Linked DNA regions of Homo sapiens: regions 2 and 3 are each linked to region 1. Evidence: fine-mapped expression QTL. A gene starts in region 1. Each other region holds a variant in brackets. All regions are shown on one strand. Distances are from middle to middle.

What was found. PIP is the estimated chance that this variant, and not a neighbour inherited with it, causes the effect.
Region 2: its variant is fine-mapped to the expression of REC8 in CD8 T cells (Kasela 2017, PIP 0.95).
Region 3: its variant is fine-mapped to the expression of REC8 in whole blood (TOPMed, PIP above 0.99).

What each region holds. Positions count from the first base shown.
Region 1 is chr14:24,170,747-24,173,589 of GRCh38, forward strand. REC8 (REC8 meiotic recombination protein) reads left to right here and starts at 1,334. Exons shown (of 19, transcript NM_001048205.2): 1 at 1,334-1,862; 2 at 1,967-2,035; 3 at 2,153-2,295; 4 at 2,380-2,452; 5 at 2,545-2,665. The coding sequence starts at 1,807. RefSeq lists enhancers at 746-1,246, 1,315-1,564 and a silencer at 1,095-1,144.
Region 2 is chr14:24,347,966-24,350,808 of GRCh38, forward strand. No RefSeq gene overlaps it. Among named protein-coding and RNA genes, the nearest start is that of RIPK3, 9.4 kb to the left of the region's middle. The variant T/C (reference allele first, on the strand shown) is at 1,686.
Region 3 is chr14:24,057,283-24,059,782 of GRCh38, forward strand. It overlaps CARMIL3 (capping protein regulator and myosin 1 linker 3), which reads left to right. Exons shown (of 40, transcript NM_138360.4): 15 at 521-597; 16 at 678-782; 17 at 873-942; 18 at 1,398-1,479; 19 at 1,608-1,704; 20 at 1,853-1,907; 21 at 1,988-2,160; 22 at 2,382-2,450. Among named protein-coding and RNA genes, the nearest start is that of CARMIL3, 6.5 kb to the left of the region's middle. The variant G/A (reference allele first, on the strand shown) is at 1,181.

The DNA of each region.
Region 1 (2,843 bases):
AACCCCTGTCTCTACTAAAAAATACAAAATTTAGCCAGGTGTGGTGGTGGGCGCCTGTAATCCCAGCTACTCGGGAGCCTGAGGCAGGAGAATCCCCTGCACCGGGGAGGCGGAGGCTGCAATGAGCTGAGACTGCGCCACTGCACTCCAGCCTGGGTGACAGAGTGAAACTCCATCTCAAAAAAAAAAGAAACCAGCCTGGCCAACATAGTGAAATCCCGTCTCTTCTAAAAATGCAAAAATTAGTTGGGTGTGATGGAGGGCGCCTGTAATCCCAGCTACTCAGGAGGCCAAGACACGAGAATCGCTTGAACCTGAGGGGATGGGGGGCAGAGGATGCAGTGAGCCGAGATTGCCGAGATAGCGCCACTGCATTCCAGCCTGGGCAACAGTGAGAGCCTCCATCTCAAAAAAAAAAAAAAAAAATGGACTTCTTCCTCATTGACCTGTGGTGGCTCCAAGGCCATCAAAAAAAAAAAAAATGGACTTCTTCCTCATTGACCTGTGGTGGCTCCAAGGCCATCATCTCACAGCCTTTTTTTTTTTTTTTTTTTTTGAGACGGAGTCTTGCTCCCTTGCCCAGGTTGGAGTGGAGCTGCATGATCTCGGCTCACTGCAACCTCCGCCTCCCAGGTTCAAGCATTCTCCTGCCTCAGCCTCCTGAGTAGCTGGGATTACAGGCGCGTGCCACCACGCCCAGCTAACTTTTGCATTTTTAATAGAGACGGGGTTTCACCATATTGGTCAGGCTGGACTCGAACTCCTAACCTCATGATCCGCCCGCCTCGGCCTCCCAAAGTGCTAGGATTACAGGCGTGAGCCACTGCGCCCGGCCTCATCTCACATCTTTCTTCCTCTGCAGCACACGACACGCCCTAGTTGGAAACAAAGTCGGAGTTTGTGGATTGGGGGAAGGGCGGGGTCTAACCTCAGGTCAGGCGCCGTGCAAGGTACATCTTGGCACCCGGAAGAGGCCCAGTACAGTTGCCCCCGAGGTGACCCGACCTCCCCTACCAATTGAGGCGCCCTTGTTGCCAGGCTTGCGGCGGGGGAGCGGCGGGGGAGCGACGGGGATGCGCTCATTGGTCAAGGAAGGGGCGCCTGTTACTAGAGGCGAGAACCGGAGCCCATTGGTCGGAACACCTCACAATGGACCCCAGCGGCGCGCAAAATCCTTATGATTGGTTTGCTGGCTGCCTCGGGAGACCCTGTTGCCAGGATACTTGGCGTTCCCGACCCGACCCCCGTTCCCCATTGGCTGTCAGGGCAAAAGCCGCCATCTAATGAGGAGCGAGGTGCGGTGCCCCGAAGCGCTCGCTTCCCGCGGTGCGATCTAGTCCTGCAGTAGGCGGCCCGGGGCCACACCGCGGCCGCCCAAGCCAGTGCAAGGCCCAGGGGCCTGACATCGCTCCCAGCGCTCGAGGACCGAGGCCTGCTGTGGAGGACACCGTGCTCCCTCGGGACCTGCTCTGGATTCCGGCCCGGACGTCCCCTTGGAGCTCTGCATCTCCAACCTGGAACCCAACCCAGAAGTCTCAAGTTTGACGCATCACGTGGCGTGCGGATCCACTGAGGGTCCACAGAGAGGGGCGCCCATCTCCTGCGTCTCAGTTATCCTGGTAATTGTGTATCTGCCCATTGTTCGTTGCCTCATTAACTTGGCTTTCTAGGTGCACCCACCTTGCCACCAGAGAAGTCCAAATCCTGACTTCTCTCCAAGGTGTTGGGAATTCTGTGCCCTAAAGAATTCCGACTCAGATCCGAACGGGGATCTGGTGGAATCGAGGGTGAAAGACCAGAGGGACAATGTTCTACTATCCCAACGTGCTTCAGCGCCACACCGGCTGCTTTGCCACCATCTGGTAAGGGCGGGGCCCGTTGGCGCGCGATGGCGGACGCTGCCCGGGATCCCAGCCTGACAGCTCCCCCTCCATCCCCATTCTCCCACCTTCCCCACCCACTTCAGGCTGGCGGCGACTCGCGGCAGCCGGTTGGTGAAGCGCGAATACCTGAGGGTGAATGTGGTGAAAACCTGGTAAGGCCCAGAAAAGGGAAGGAGGGCCTGGTGCGGGGGGTGAGTTAGGGGATGGGGTGGCCAAGACTGTGGGCCCACTCCTGGACGCAGCGGTAATCAGGGCGCATTGTTCCCCAGCGAGGAAATCCTCAATTACGTGCTGGTACGAGTGCAACCCCCGCAGCCCGGCCTGCCGCGGCCCCGCTTCTCCCTCTATCTCTCAGCCCAACTTCAGATCGGTGTGATCCGCGTCTATTCTCAACAATGCCAGTACCTCGTGGGTAAGGCTGGGAACCCTCAAAGGTGGGGCGGGCTGAGCAGCTGTCTGCTAAGCTGGCTGTCTACCTCGTCCTCCCTGCCCACAGAGGACATCCAGCACATCTTGGAGCGCCTCCACCGTGCCCAGCTGCAGATCCGAATAGATATGGAGACTGAGCTGTGAGTGTGCCCTGGGCCTTTGATGGAACACCTGCTAGCTTGGCCTCAGCCTGGCTCAGCCTCAGTCCTTCACGGCCTACATTCTCTCCCAGACCCAGCCTGCTGCTTCCTAACCACCTGGCCATGATGGAGACCCTAGAAGATGCTCCAGATCCCTTTTTTGGGATGATGTCTGTGGATCCCAGACTTCCTAGTCCTTTCGATATCCCTCAGGTAGGGCTCATTCCCCAAGACTCGTGAATTGGCAATGCAGAAGGGGAGTGCTGTCCCTGTGTCACTCTGACATTGGGGTTGGGGAAGGAAGCTTACCACAGCTCTCTCCCACAGGAGATGGTGCAGGGGGACTGCCAAGGTGGACCCATCCAGGCGAAGCCCCCTGTACTTACCTACT
Region 2 (2,843 bases), 180 kb after region 1:
ATCCCAGCACTTTGGGAGGCTGAGGTGGGTGGATCACTTGAGGTCAGGAGGTCAAGACTAGCCTGGCCAACGTGTTGAAACCTGGTATCTACTGAAAACACAAAAATTAGCCAGGTGTAGTGGTACACACCTGTAATCCCAGCTACTTGGGAGGCTGAGGCAGGAGAATCGCTTGAACCTGGGAGGTGGAAGCTGCAGTGAGCTGAGATCACACCACTACACTCCAGCCTGGGCAATAGAGTGAGACTCTCTCTCAAAAAAAAAAAAAAATTGTGAAATAGTTTTTCAGAGTAGTTGTAGTATTTTATATTCTCACCAGAAATGTATGAGAGCTCTAGTTCTTTCATATCTTTGCCATCATTTGCTATGTTCAAGTCCTGTTACTATTAGCTATTTGGATAGGTAGCTCATTGTGGTTTTAATTTGCATTTCCACAATGACCAATAATATAAGCATGTTTTCATGTGCTTACTTGCCATCCATATATCTTTTCTTTTTTTTTTAATTGAGACAGAATCTCACTCTGTTGCCCAGGCTAGAGTGCGGTGGCGCCATCTCTGCTCACTGCAACCTCTGCCATCCAGGTTCAAGTGAGTCTCATGCCCCAGCCTCCTAAGTACCTGGGACTACGGGCGTATGCCACCATGCCTGGCTGATTTTTTTGTATTTTTAGTAGAGGCAGGGGTTTGCCATGTTGCCCAGGCTGGTCTCGAACTCCTCACCTCAGGTGATCTGCCCGCCTCAGTCTCCCAAATGGCTGGGATTACAAGCGTGAGCCACTGCGCCCTACCACCATCCATACGTCTTCTTAGGTGAAGTGTCTGTTCAAATTTTTGGCTCATATTTTAATGGATTGTTTGTTTTATTATTACCGAGTTTTGAAAGTTCTTTATATATTCTGGATACAAGTTCTTTTTCAGATGTATCATTTAAAAATACTTTCTCCCTGCCTATGTCTAGTCTTTTCATTTTCTTAACAGTTTCTTTCAAAGAGCAAAAGTTTTACTTTTGACAAAATCCAACTTGTCAAGTTTTTCTTTTATAGATGATAAAAAATCAAGTTTTTCTTTTGGTGTAGTCTATAAGAAATTTTTGCTTCATCCAAGGTTACAGTGATTTTCTCTTATGCTTCTTTCTAAGTTTTAGAGTTTGGGTTTTATATTTCTACCTGTTATGATTAAAAAAATAGATCTATTCATTTTTAAAGGTTCAGATATTCCTGCTTATGGGTTGTGTGTGTGTGTGTGTGTGTGTGTGTGTACTTCTTGGATTTACTTTAATTTTTAAGAAAGTTCATTTTGAAAGTGTAAGACTGACTCACCTTTGATAAGGGAACTACCAACAGGGAATTTGTGTAACTTAGACCAGGTTTTGGATGGAAGAAAGTGCCCTCCACAAACAGCTGTGGTGTGGAGGTAAAGAGGTGCCCCAAATGAGCAGTAAGGGTACATAAATGACCACTGTTCTCATTTGAATACATGCCTTCTCAAGTTCTTCTGTGCCAGGAACTCTGGCTTAAAAGGTTTTGCTTTGTTTTAATATCAGAAGCTGTGGAATGGTCTTGAGCTACATTGCAACATGATTAGATCTGTGACTTAGGAGGCTCAAGCCAGTGGCTACATGGTGCATGAAATGAGATGGGGAGAACTGGAGGCAGGGAAAACTGCAGGCCACAGTTAGAGCAA[T/C]TCAAGTGAGAGGTGATGAGGACCTGAACCAAGTTAATGCCTGCAGGGATCGAGAGGAAGAAACTCAGTCTAGAAATAACTCTGAGGTATTAGTAGAAGAACCTGGGGATGAGAGAGAAGGAATATTCAAAGTTTCTATTCTGGAAAGTTGAGAGAATAGTAATGCCATGACACTGAGGTATGGAACATAGAAGAGATACATTATGTGGGAATGGGCTATATTTGGATGTGGACATGTTTGTGTGAGAGCCACGTGCTGCAGCCTCAAGGGATCCCTAGCAGGCAGGAGAAGACAGGAGACCGGAGCAGGGAAGTGGTGAGAGTTATGCTGAAATGAACGACACCAACCGAGAGAGTCTATGGAGGAAGAAGGGAAGAAGGCAGAGGACAGAAAACACTACATCTCCAAAGTCAGGCCAGCAGAAGAGAAACCAGTGAGAGAAACTGAGGTCAGAGAGGCCGGAGCAGAACCAGGATAGCCAAGGGAGGAGAGACTTATCAGACTCAGCTGCTACTGAGAAGGCGTCTAAGTTTGGGTTTCCCAAAAAGAAGAGCCTGAGCTTGGATTTAACAAAGGTAGTGTTTTGGGGAGGGGATCCCAAGAAGCAGCAGTGAGGGAACAGAGTGTGAACTAGGAAGGGAAGAAAGCCAATATGAGGATGTTTTGTTGAGATTGTTATTGTAGGCAGTGGAGGCTCCTTTCCAGTAGAGGCTCCAAATTTAAAGAATGCCTCCCAGAATTGTCCACATGAAGGATGGGAGGCTGGAACATTCATCTGCCAGTGCCTGCACTCATTGGTTGAGGATTGCATCTGGAGGCACTAACTCCCTTGCACTTCTTGGCTGTGTTTGCATTGGAGCTGGAAAGGAGAGGAGTAGTGAGCAAGCTCCCATTGTGTGGGAGAAGGACCTTGTGATGGTTACATTTTATGGGTCTGCTTGGAGGGTGTTTTTGGATGAGATTCAACATCTTAAAAAGTGAATTTTAGGCCGGGCACAGTGGCTCATGCCTGTAATCCCAGAACTTTGGGAGGCTGAGGCAGGCAGATCATGAGGTCAGGAGTTCAAGACCAGCCTGGCCAACATGGTGAAACTCCATCTCTACTAAAAATACAAAAATTAGCCAGGCGTGGGGGCTGGCGCCTGTAATTCCAGCTA
Region 3 (2,500 bases), 110 kb before region 1:
TGGGGAAGACCACAGTGGGCCTCGGTCTCACCCCCTATCCCTGAGTACACAGGCGGGCAGAGCTGTCTAGATGACTTCAGGTTCAGCTGAAGTATAAAGCAATGTCCATAGTTCATACCTGTGTGGCACTTTATCCAGGTCACAAGCTTGTGCTTGCTGTGCTTAAAAGCCAGCCCTTGCTCCCTTCCCCAGCTGTGCACCCTGGCTCCACCAGGGGAATGGATGCTTTTCCTAACTTGAACAAGGCACCTTAGGAGTCAGTGGTGGCCCTGGCTTTACACATCCACTGCCTGTGAGCAGCTTCATGCCCCTGGAAGCCAGGCAGGGAGTAGACCCATGTTCCACAGGGGAGAAAACAGAGACTTCAAGAATCTGAGTGGGCATCTCCAGTGGAGCTCACACAGGCTGACCACAGAGAATGAAGAGCCAGGAACCTCGATGGGGAGGGAGGGGGAGTCCTTTCCTGCCACCCCCTACCCCCTTCCAGCTCCCCTGAGACCCACCATATCTCCCCCCACAGCTTCTCGGTGCCCTGCTCCACGGCTGCTGCTCCCACCTCACCTACCTCAACCTGGCTCGCAACAGCTGCTCCCACAGGTGGGAGAGGAGGGGGAAGGGAGGACAGGGCAAGACATGGCCAACCCCCTCCCTCGCTGACCCCAGGGGTCTCTCCACAGGAAGGGTCGAGAGGCCCCGCCGGCCTTCAAGCAGTTCTTCAGCAGCGCCTACACACTGAGCCACGTCAATCTGTCGGCCACAAAGCTGCCCCTGGAGGCCCTCAGGTCGGGTGGGTGCAGGGTTGGGGGCGCATCCAAGGGAACCACGGGGAGCGGGAAGAGGTAAAGGAGGGCCTGCTGACCTCCCTCCCACAGGGCGCTGCTTCAGGGCCTCTCCCTCAACAGTCACCTCAGTGACCTGCACCTGGATCTCAGCAGCTGCGAGGTGAGCCCTCAGTCCCCAACCCCTCTGCCCGCCTCCGATCCATGTGCATTTCTCAGACCTAAGTCAAACCCTGGCTCCATCTAGCCTCTGTGCTGACCCTCTGCGACCCCCTGACCTGGCCACACCACCACTTTCCCCTCTCAGTCTGGCCTCTTTTCCAGAGGCCATTCATTCTCAGTCTCTAGTATCTCTGCCCTTAAAGCTTTGGGGTGGGAGATACCAGACTTTTCCACCAGAG[G/A]GCAGGAGCAAGCTGTCTTAGGAATAGCAGCCTTCCTGGCCGAAGGGAGGGAAGCCAGCTCTAGGGAAGGATCTGGTGTGGGGAAAGAGTCTCCCTGATTTTACACCCAGATCCTGGCATGACTTTGAGTTCTGGTGTGACTACTATATCCTAAGCATTAAAGGTGCCCTACCCCCACCCCAACCCCTGCCTTCCCTACCTCACCTTGTCCCTGCAGCTCCGTTCAGCGGGAGCCCAAGCCTTGCAGGAGCAGCTGGGAGCTGTCACCTGTGTAGGCAGCCTGGATCTGTCAGACAATGGTGAGTAGTGGTTCCTCCCTTCCCTGGGGCCAGGGGAGAACAGGGGCCTGGAGCATGCAGAAGCAGCCCTGATGGGACACCAGTCAGCCTCAGGCCTCCAGGCCAGGCCTCTCCCATCTGCTCACCAGGGTTCGACTCGGACCTCCTGACACTGGTGCCTGCACTTGGCAAGAACAAGTCCCTCAAGCACCTGTTTTTGGGCAAGAACTTCAATGTCAAGGCCAAGTGAGGCCCCCTTTCCATGCCCACAGACCCTCATCCCATCATTCACCCATCCTCTTGGCTCACCGTATTACCTCTGGCCACCTCTCTCCTCCTCCAATAGCATGACCCCAGCCCTTCCCCTCCTACTCTGAGCCCCGCCTCCCTGCAGGACCCTGGAGGAGATCCTCCACAAGCTGGTGCAGCTGATCCAGGAAGAGGACTGTGTGAGTGCCTGGGCCTGGGAGGGGACCTGCAGTCGGAGGAGGCTGTGGGGACTGGGTCCAACCGCCCCTTGCCCACACAGTCCCTGCAGTCACTGTCGGTGGCAGACTCCCGGCTGAAGCTTCGCACCAGCATCCTCATCAATGCCCTGGGCAGCAACACCTGCCTGGCCAAGGTGGATCTGAGCGGCAATGGCATGGAGGACATCGGGGCCAAGATGCTGTCTAAGGCCCTGCAGATAAACTCCTCCCTCAGGTGGGGCCCACACCGGGACCCCCTGACCTGGAGCCCCAGCCCCTCCCCATATGTACATAATCTCCCTGCTTTCCTTGATGCTCTGGACCCCAGCTTCCAGAAGACCCCCAGCCCCAGAACCATCTCTGAGTCAGCCTTATTGCCCCAAGAGGTTTGTGTCCCTGGCCCCTAGTAGGGACCCAGGAGGAGAGGTGCCAAACTGGTGCTTACCCTCCCCCCAGAACTATCCTATGGGATCGGAACAATACATCTGCCCTGGGCTTCCTGGACATCGCAAGGGCCCTGGAGAGGTGAGTAGACCATGGTCCTGCCCTGATCCAAGTCCCCAGCCTCCCTGTGC